2 separate regions of the Homo sapiens genome follow, and region 1 is linked to region 2. Evidence: fine-mapped expression QTL. A gene starts in region 2. The other region holds a variant in brackets. All regions are shown on one strand. Distances are from middle to middle. Region 1 overlaps SLC7A9 (solute carrier family 7 member 9). Region 2 holds the start of PDCD5 (programmed cell death 5).

Region 1 (5,380 bases), 270 kb before region 2:
CGGGCAGGTAGGGGACCCCCACCGTCACTCCCAGGGTGGACAGGGGCGGCGAAAGCAATATCACCCCCGAGGAAGACACACAGCTAAAATCCTCAGGGTTCTGCCAGGCGAAACCCACGCCAGTACAAGTAGGAGACCCAAATCCAGAGAAGGGATGTAGCTTGAACCCACACCGCAAACTGGCCAGGAAGGCATGGATGGGCCTGCACACGGGAATTGATCAAGGCTGCCTGGAATCTCAGCCTTTCCACTCCAGGGGGCCCTAGTTCCCAACATGGGGGGGAAGCTGCCCATGCTGAGGCGAAGGGAAGCGACACCGCGTGAATGAGGCACTGGTTTTCCACGTGGCACTTTTTACCTTTTCACCTAGTGATATTTTTCACATAGTGATATTTCCTGAACATCTTCCCCATGTTAATATATACAAACTAATTTGCTAATTAGCAAATTAATAAATAACCCAGAATTGGCTAACTTTCCCTTAAAGGGCCAGATGGTAAATATTCCAGGCTCGCAGGCTGCATAAACCTCTGTCACAGATTCTCAACTCTGCCTTGGTACCCAAGAGTGAACAGCCATGGTCATGTTCCAATAAAACTTTATTTGCCCAAACAGCTGTGGTTTGCCAATCCTTTAGACCCATCTGGTCTAGAGACTGCCACCAGCTGTGTTGTATCACACTTTCAGATGTAGCATAACTTAACAAATCCTTCACTCACACCTGGGTGTGGGTGGTTTCCATGAACGTTGCCGCAGTGAACATCCTCGAACACGTGTCTTGGCTTAGTTGTCCAGTGTTCTGAATGGATATATTTCAGAGTGAAATTGACAAAGTCTGTGTATGTTAAAAAATGAAATACCATAAAATCATTCTTCTAAAGCCAAACCGAAATACATGTAGTGCTAGGCCTCCAACTTCATTCTTTGTCAAAAGCGTTTTGGCTAGATCCTTTGTATTTCTTTATAAATTTTAAATTTAAATTTTAATTAACTAATTAATTTTGAGGCAAGGTCTCACTCTGTCGCCCAGGCTGGAGCACACTGGCATGATCTTGGCTCACTGTAGCCTCTACCTCCTGGGCTCAAGCAATCCTCCCTCCTCAGCCTCTGGAATAGCTGGGACCACAGGCACGTGCCATCACACCCAGCTAACTTTTGTATTCTTAGTCAAGATGGGGTTTCACCATGTTGCCCAGGCCCATTTCGAACTCCTGGCTCAAGTGATCCTCCTGCCTCCACTTCCCAAAGCCCTGGAATTACAGGCATGAGCTATCGTGCCCAGCCTTATATTATTTTTGAGATGGAGTCTTGCTCTGTCACCCAGGCTGGAGTGCAGTGGTGTGATCTCGCCTCACTGCAGTCTCCGCCTCCCTAGTTCAAGCAATTTTCTGCCTCAGCCTCTGGAGTAGCTGGGATTACAGGCACCTGCCATCATGCCTGGCTAATTTTTGTATTTTTAGTAGAGACGGAGTTTCACCATCTTGGCCAAGCTGGTCTTGAACTCCTGACCTCGTGATCCACCTGCCTCAGCCTCCCAAAGTGTTGGGATTACAGGTGTGAGCCACCACACCCGGCCGCCTTATTTTAAATTGACAAATAATAATTGCTTATATGGGCTGAGGCAGGAGGATTGCTTGAGGCCAGGAGTTCGAGACTAGTCTGGGCCACATGGTGAGACTCCGTCTCTACAAAAAGAAATTTAAAAATTAGCTGGGTGTAGAGGCCCATGCCTGTAGTTCCAGAAGCCCAGAAGTTCCAGGCTGCAGTGGGCCACGATCACACCACTGCACTCCTGCCTGGGTAACAGAGTAAGACCCTGCCTCTAAAAAATAACAACAATAATTGCATATATGTATGTGGTACAGTGTGATGTTTCAATACATGTAAACATTGTGGAATGGCATATGTATCACCTCACATACTTCTTTATGCTGAGAACATTAAAAATTCACTGGCTGGGCATGGTGGCTCACGCCTGTAATCCCAGCACTTTGGGAGGCCGAGGCGGGCAGATCACGAGGTCAGGAGATCGAGACCATCTTGCCTAACATGGTGAAACCCTATCTCTACTAAAATTACCAAAAATTAGCTGTGCGTGGTGGCGGGCGCCTGTAGTCCTAGCTACTTGGGAGGCTGAGGAAGGAGAATGGCGTGAACCCAGGAGGCAGAGCTTACAGTGAGCCAAGATCACGCCACTGCACTCCAGCCTGGGCAACAGAGCAAGACTCCGTCTCAGAAAAAAAAAAAAAAACCACTAGCTATTTTGAAATATACACTATTACTAACAATAGTCACCTTGCTGTGCAGTAGATCACCAGAGCTTATTCCTCCCATCATACTGAAACTCTGTAGCCTTTGACCAACATTTCCCCTTTTGCCATCCCAGGCCCCTCTTCCTTCAGCCTCTGGTAACCAGCATTCTACTCTCTATTGCTATGTTTGAATTTTTAGATTTCATGTATGTTGCAGATGATTACAACTATCTGGGCTGGTGGTACAGGGATAAGAAGAATTTACCAAGACAGCTGTAGGTCAGGAAAGGCAGATTTATTACAGAAAGTAGGAAAATACATTGCAAGGGTGCAATGAGCAGGTCAGCAAGAGAGGAACTGACTGCAAAGAGACAAAGGCTTGCTGGGGATTTTGTAGGATGGTGCTTGTGCTGTGTGCTGGACAGGGGTACGTGCAGTACTGATAATGCCAAGGTTGCAGTGAGCTAACTTGCATTTTTCTATTTTTTTTTTTGAGACGGAGTCTTGCTCTGTCACCCAGGCTGGAGTGCAGTGGCATGATCTCGGCTCACTGCAAGCTCCACCTCCCAGGTTCACGCCATTCTCCTGCCTCAGCCTCCTGAGTAGCTGGGACTACAGGTGCCTGCCATCACGCCCGGCTAATTTTTTTTTGTATTTTTAGTAGAGATGGGGTTTCACCGTGTTTGCCAGGATGGTCTTGATCTCCTGACCTCGTGATCCGCCCGCCT[T/C]GGCCTCCCAAAGTGCTGGGATTACAGGCGTGAGCCACCGCGCCCGGCTGCATTTTTCTATTAGCTGAGGGACTGGCGATCACTGGGCACAGGAAGCTTGTAAGTTATTTGTGCAGGGGGGCTATGTGTCCTGGACCATGAAGAAAGGCGGGCTTGTAGCTTATCTGTCTTATCTCTTTTGGCTTTCCCTTGGTCCCACCAGCCTGACTCATTTTCCCTAATTAGGACTCCATAATACATAAGGGAGATCATGGGATATTTGTCTTTCTGTGTCTGGCTTATTTCACTTAGCATAATGTTCTCTAGAGTCATCTCTGTTGTCAAAAGATGACAGAATTCCATTCTCTTTAGAGTCGGAATAGTATTCCATTGTGTATCTATTACATTATTTTTATTCATTCATCTGTGATGGACACTTAGGTTGTGTCCATGTCTTGGCTGTGGTGAATAACGTTGTAATGAACATGGGAGTGCAGACACCTGACATGTGGATTTCAATTCATTCAAATATATACCCAGAGGTACATAGGAGTGCAGGTATCTGGCATATGATTTCAATTCATTCAAATATATACCCAAGGCCAGGTGCAGTGGCTCACGCCTGTAATCCCAGCACTTTGGGAGGCCGAGGTGGGTGGATCACATGAGGTCAGGAGTTCGAGACCAAACTGGCCAACATGGTGAAACCCTGTCTCTACTAAAAATACAAAAATTAGTGGGGCATGGTGGCAGATGCCTGTAATTCCAGCTACTCAGGAGGCTGAGGCAGGAGAATTGCTTGACCCGGGAAGCAGAGGTTGCAGTGAGCCGAGATCGCACCAGTGCACTCCAGCCTGGGCGACACAGTGAGATACTCCGTCTCAAAAACAACAACAACAAAAAATCATTGCCCAGACCAATGTTACAGAGCTTGCCTGTTTTCTCCTAGGAATTTTACAGTTTCAAGTCTTATATCCATTTTGAGTAGATTTCTTGTCTAAGGGGTGAGATAAGGGTCCAATTTCATTCTGGCAGCTTTCCCACTTGCATATGAATATTACAATCAGCTTGCCAGTTTCTATAGTAAAGCTGTTGGGATTTTGATCAGGACTGGGTTGAATCCATAGATCAACTGGGGGAAGACTCTGCTGTCTTAAAAGTACTGAGTCTTCCAGCATGGGTACGGTGGCTCACACCTGTAATCAAAGCACTTTGGGAGGCCGAGGGGGAGGACTGCTTGAGCCCATGGGTTAGAGACCAGCCTAGGCAACATAGTGAGACCCCATGTCTACAAAAAGTACAATAGACTTAGCCAGGCATGGTGGCACATGCCTGTGGTCCCAGCTACTCAGGAGACTGAGGTGGGAGGATCGTGTGAGCCCAGGAGGTCGAGGCTGCAGTGAGCTGAGATTGCACCACTGCACTGCACTCCAGCCTGGGAGACAGAGTGAGACCTTGTCTCCAAAAAAAAAAAAAATACTGAGTCTTCCAATCCATGGGTGGACTATTTAGGTCTTTAATCTTGTTTTAACAACTTTTTTGTTTGTTGGTGTTTTTTTTTTTTTTTTTTTGAGACAGGATCTTGCTTTGTCACCCAGGCTGGAATGCAGTGACACGATCCTGGCTCACTGCAACATCTGCCTCCCAGGTTCAAGCGATTCTCATGCCTCAGCCTCCCAAGTAGCTGGGATTACAGGCATATACCATCACACCTGGCTAATTTTTGTATTTTTAGTAGAGACAGGGTTTCACCATGTTGCCCAGGTTGGTCTTAAACTCCTGGCCTCAAGTGATCCACCTGCCTCAGCCTCCCAAAGTGTTGGGATTACAGGCGTGAGCCACTGGGCCTGGCTTAATTTTCTGTAAAAAAAAGTTTTTTGAGTAGTTTTTGGTATATAGTTCTTGCACATCTTTTGTCAAATTTATTCCAAAGAATTTCATTTTTCATACTATTGTAAATGGTACTGTTAAAAAAAAGTTGCTTAATTTTTAGTTTCTGATAGTTTATTGCTAGTATACACAAACACAATTTTAACAGTTCTAATTAAGGTACAAATATAAAACTCACCCTTTGTAATTATACAACTCAATTATTTTCATAAATTTATAAGGCTGTACAAACATCACAATCCAATTCTAGATCATTTCCATCACCCCAAAAAGTTTCCTCATTGCCTAATTAATCCCTGCTTTCACCCGCAGCTCCAGGCAACCACTAATCTACTTCTGTCTCTATAACTGCTTTTTCTTGACATTTCATCTAAATGGAATGACATGGGCCAGGCGTGGTGGCTCACGCCTGTAATCCCAGCACTTTGGAAGGCCGAAGTGGGTGGATCACTTAAAGTCAGGAGTTCAAGACCAGCCTGGCCAACATGGTGAAACCCTGTCTCTACTAAAAGTACAAAAATTAGCCGGACG
Region 2 (5,380 bases):
CTACAGGCTTCAGTCACCACACCTGGCCTGCCACAAACTATTATATCACAGAACCCTAAGATGCCATCAATTCTAAGATACACCATAGTTTTACGTATCTCTAAAAATGAAAAACCCTAAAATGAGAGGTCTAATAGAGATCTCCATTCAAAACTGGGGTTTCTCGGGAGGCCAAGGTGGGAGGATCACTTGAAGCCAGGAGTTTGAGACCAGCCTGGGTGATATAGCGAGGCTATTAAAAAAAAAAAAAGTTTAAAAAAATTAGCCAGGCATGGTGGTGCACGCCTGTCATCTCAGCTCCTCAGGAGGCTGAGGTGGGAGGATCACTTGAGCCCAGCAGGAGTTTGAGGCTGCAGTGAGTTCTGATCCCACCACTGGGGTATCAAAGAGCAACATTCTCAGTACAAAGTAAAGAATAAATAAATATGCCATGCAGTAAGGGGCAGTACAAAAGCTTGCATGCACCTGGCCCTGACGTAAAGAAGAAAAAAGTTCAGTCTTACAGGGTTGCTGTCTGAATTCACACTACTAGGCAGGAGGCAGGGGAAAACCTCAAGCAGAGAATTTAACTTTCAATGGTCTCAGAAATGTACTCAAGTGATAGCAGAGTCAAAAGTAAATCCCCTCTGGAAGAATCTGGGGCAAGAGCAATCTGTTTTAAAAGGCATCCTGATTTCAGATATGTGACAATGAAAAGATGTACACGGCAGAAATCAATGAAATTTGCGTCGTTTTACTTCCTATCACTACTCCAGATACTTCTCACCGTCTGTCTTCTCCCGAACCCTCCCTTCCTATTTCTGTAGACCCAGCACAGTGCCTGACCCAGAGCAGGTGCTCTATAAATATTTGCTGGAGAGGAGGAGTAAGAAGGTGAGGAAGGGGAAATAGAGAATTGTCCAGTAGCTAAAGGTTTCAGTCTTGCAAGATGAAAACATTCTAGAGTGTGAACACTACTGAAGAGCACACTTAAAAATGGTTGTGATGGTGAAATTTTATTTAACCACAATTTTTAAAAAATGATAGCATGATAGGGTAATCACATACTCATTCAATAAACCTGCCACCGAATCAATTACCTGCATCTGTCTCAGGTGCTGTGCGCTGTGTTGGGATAAAACAATCAGAATAGCTTACCAGTTAACACTTATTGAGCACTTACTAAGTGAGGCACCGGACTCACGTCACCCCCACAGCCGAGGAAACTGCCACAGCTGCCTATTATCAGGCTCATTTTTAAGGTACTCACATTGTAGCAGAGAAACATCAACCAGTAATTGCAATACAAGGTCTGATGTGGAGCTGCACACGTGTTTATTTAACAATAATGAAGATACCCTGCGGATGATTTTGGCCAAATCACCATTCCAGCAAAACAAAAAAATCTGAGTCACACACCTGCTTAAAATAACTACAGCAAAAGAAATCCATTTGGTGAAACCACCCTTCAAAAAGTTCACGTTTCCAGCCCATACCTGTGCTTTGCTTCCTGTTGGGCCGCATCACCAGGATCCTGGAAAAAAAAAACTTAAATTTAATAGAGAAATTTCACGGGAGGCGGCGGGAAAAAGGAACGGTTCTGTTGTTTCCTATACATAACAGTCTCTTGCGGTGGTAGAAACAACTCCCCAAATAAGAAACTGGGCCTCACAGAAATCAATGAACTAGTTCCCACTTACAACGTTTTGATGAACGTCTAAAACCACAACCTCAGAAGGCTTTGGAATACAGAGCACCCTGGGGAGGGGAATCCCTGTATTACGAAACCGTGTTTCACATGTAGGAATAATTTCTGGAAAATAAAACGGGCCTCGGTATTAGGGACAACGATAACTCAAAGACTGCGCCCTCCGTCCCTAAGGTCCCGGTCCCTTATCAGAAACGCCTCTCCGGGCGTGTGATCCATCCAAGCTTCCCAGGCGGCCCCTCCCTGTCATCCCGGCGGGGCAAGCGTTCCTCCGACCCTGCCGCGCTCTCAGCACCGGGAACACAGCGGACCCTCAATACCTGTCGGCTAAACTTGGGTCATAACAACTGAACTCCGGAAAAACTGAATTCGGTCCGGCTGCTGGCTCCAAAAGCTGAGATTGTGCTTGGATCCAGGCCCGCCAGGACGAGCCCGCTCCAGGCTAGGGGACCCCACACCCCAACGCCAGGGCAGGTCCCGCACGTGGCGGCCCCCGCCGCCAGCCTCCTGGGCCCCTCGCGACGAGGAAAGCGACGAGGCCACCTCTGAGCCGGCCACGAGGCCGCCAGGGCAGCGCAGGGGACCGGGGCCCCGGGGAGGCGCCCAGAGCCTCCGCCCCGGAGGCGCGCCCTACACTCCGGGCGAGGGCGGCGCCCCGCGAGGGCCAAGCCTGGCGGGGGCTGATGCGCTCACCCCGTGTTTGGCCTGCAGCTCGGCCAGCCTCTGTCTCCTCAGCGCCTCAAGCTCCTCGTCCGCCATGGCTCGGCGTCAGCGCTGGAGCAGCCGCGGTCACTCTCGCAGCCCCTCGGCGCGAGCGCGGCCTTGACCACTGCGCAGGCGCTCGCGGGGCCCAGGCGCCACCAATCCAGCCCGGAGCCACGCCCCGCGCCGCTGCCAGGGCGCCGGCAGAGGCCCGATTCCCCGATTTCAGGCGGTCGAGCTTGGGCGCACGGAGGGGCGGGGCCTGGGGCGGGGCCTCCGGGATCCACCTCCCACCCGTGATCGGCGCCTCTGCGTGCAGGGACTTGGGCTGCGCTGGGGCGGGGCTGCGCTTTGGAAAGGTTAAAACCTGAAAGTGTGGCATCAACAAGTATAATAATTATGGGTGCAATGTGCTGGTGACCTAGAGGGTTAGGCGTATATTATCTCTATTTATAGATGAGGAACCAGGGGCGCAGGAAGGCTGAGTGGGGTGATGGAAATGTCCTAAAGCTGGATCGTGGCGGTGGCTGCCCGGCTCCTCGGTGCACACAGAGGCCGGCCGGTGGCTCGCCGCCTGTGGTCCCGACGCTTCGGGAGGCGGTAGGGTCATTTGAGGTCAGGAGTTAGAGACCAGCCTGGGCAATATGGCAAGAGCCTATCTCTACTAAAATTTTAAAAAACTAGTTGGGCGCGGTGATGTGCACCTGTAGTCCCAGCTACTCAGGAGGCTGTGTCAGGAGGATCGCTGGAGCCCGGAAGTTCGAGGCTGCAGTGAGCCTTGATCTCGCCACTGCACTCCAGCCTGGGAGACACAGCCAGACCCTGTCTCTAAAAAAAAAAAAAAAAAAAAAAAAAGTGCACATCTGCCTCCTCGCCATCTGCCTCCTCCACGCACAAAAGGGCTTTTCCTGGGAGGATACTGCAGTGGGCAGCTGTGGCTGGTGTAAACTCTTTGGTGGAACAAATCCCTTCTGCCTTTGACTTGGGGGAATTGGGGGCAGAGAGGATATTCAGCTACCTAAACGTGTGACTCATACAGATTCTGTTTGTTTGTCTGTGTGTGTGTTATTTTATTTTTTACATTAAAAAAATACAGATGGGGTCTCGCTATGTTGCCTAGGCTGGCCTCTATCTCCTGAGCTCAAGCAATCCTTTTGCCTCAGCCTCCCAAACTGCTAACATTACAGGCATGAGCCACCACACCTGGCCTGTGTGTTTTAATTGTGGCAAAATATACACAATACAAAATTTACCATTTTCACCATTTTTAGGTGTACTTTTCAGTGGTATGAAATGCATTATCGTGCAGTTGTCACTCAATCTCAGCTCACTGCAACCTCCACCTCCCGGGTTCAAGCGATTCTCCTGCATCAGTCTCCCAAGTAGCTGGGACCACAGGCGTGCACCACTGTGCCCGGCTAATTTTGTATTTTTTAGTAGAGATGGGGTTTCACCATGTTGGTCAAGCTGGTCTCGAACTTCTGACCTAAAGTGATCCACCTGCCTTGGTCTCCCAAAGTGCTGGGATTACAGGCATGAACCACCTTGTCCACCATCAATCTCTACAACTTTTTTTTTTTATCATCCTGAACTGGAACTCTACCCAGTAAAGATTTAGGTTGGTGTGAGGGGCCTCTAATGGGAATGGGTGGGGGTGGGAGGGGTCTGAGAATAATAATCAGTCTCCACCCATTCTCATTCTAGTTTCTATGAATTTGCCTATTCTGGGTATCTTGTATATGTGGAATCATACAATATTTGTCCTTTTGTGACTGGCTTACTCCACCTAGCATATGTCTTAAAGGTTCATTCATGTTGTAGCATGTGGCAGAATTTCTTTCCCTCTTTAGACTGAATATATTCCATTGTATGGATATACCTAGCACATTTTGTTTATCCATTCATCTGACAATGGACACTTAGGTTGCATCCACCTTTTGGCTATTATTAATAATGCAGCTATGAACATGGGTGTAGAAATATCTGTTCAGGTCTGTGCTTTCACTTTTGGATATATACCCAGAAGAGAAATTGTTGGATAATGTGATAATTCTGTGTTGAGGAATGGCCATACCATTTTCCACAGCAACTGCACTATTTTACATTCCAACCAACAGTGAATGAAGGTTCCAATTTCACCGTCTCCTCACCAATATTTGTTGTGTTCTGTTTTTTTGTTTGTTTGTTTTTTGATTGTTTTTGATAGTAACCATCCTAACGGGTATGAGGTGAGGTGTTGTGGTTTTGATATGCATTTCTCTAACGATTAGTGATGTTGAGCATCTTTTCATGTGCTTGTTGGCCATTTGTATATCTTCTTTAGAGAAATGTCTACTCTAGGCCAGGTGCGATGGCTTACTCCTGTAATCCCAGCACTTTGGGAGGCTGAGGAGGGCAGATCACTAGGTCAAGAGATTGAGACTATCCTGGCCAACATGGCGAAACCCTGTCTCTACTAAAAATACAAAAATTAGCTGGGCGTGGTGGCACGCACCTGTAGTCCCAGCTACTCAGGAGGCTGAGGCAGGAGAATCACTTGAACCCGGGAGCCGGAAGTTGCAGTGAGCCAAGATCGCGCCACTGGACTCCAGCCTGGTGACAGAGCGAGACTCTGTCTCAAGAAAAAAAAGAAAAGAAAAGAAAAGAAAAGAAAAATGTCTCTTCTAGCCCTTTGCCCATTTTAAAATTTGCTTTTCTTTTTTTGTTGTTGCGTTGTAGTAGTTCTTTACATATTTTAGATAATCCCTTATCAAAGTATATGATTTGCAACTATTTTCTCCCATTCCATGGGATTTACATTCTGTTGATTGTGTCCTTCAATGCACAAAATATTTTAATTTTCATAAAGTCCAACTTACCTATTTTTTCTTTTGTTGCCTTTGCTTTTGGTGTCATACCCAAGAAATAACTGCCAAATCTAACGTTATGAAGCTATTCTCCTGTTTCCTTCTAGAAGTTCTATAGTTTTAGCTCATTATGTTCAGGTCTGTG

What was found.
Region 1: its variant is fine-mapped to the expression of PDCD5 in coronary artery (GTEx, PIP 0.97).

What each region holds. Positions count from the first base shown.
Region 1 is chr19:32,853,067-32,858,446 of GRCh38, reverse strand. SLC7A9 (solute carrier family 7 member 9) reads left to right here. Exons shown (of 13, transcript NM_014270.5): 9 at 1-7. Among named protein-coding and RNA genes, the nearest start is that of SLC7A9, 14 kb to the left of the region's middle. The variant T/C (reference allele first, on the strand shown) is at 2,981.
Region 2 is chr19:32,578,328-32,583,707 of GRCh38, reverse strand. PDCD5 (programmed cell death 5) reads right to left here and starts at 2,518. Exons shown (of 6, transcript NM_004708.4): 1 at 2,381-2,518; 2 at 1,476-1,513. The coding sequence starts at 2,446. RefSeq lists silencers at 2,517-2,693, 2,039-2,768 and an enhancer at 2,979-3,068.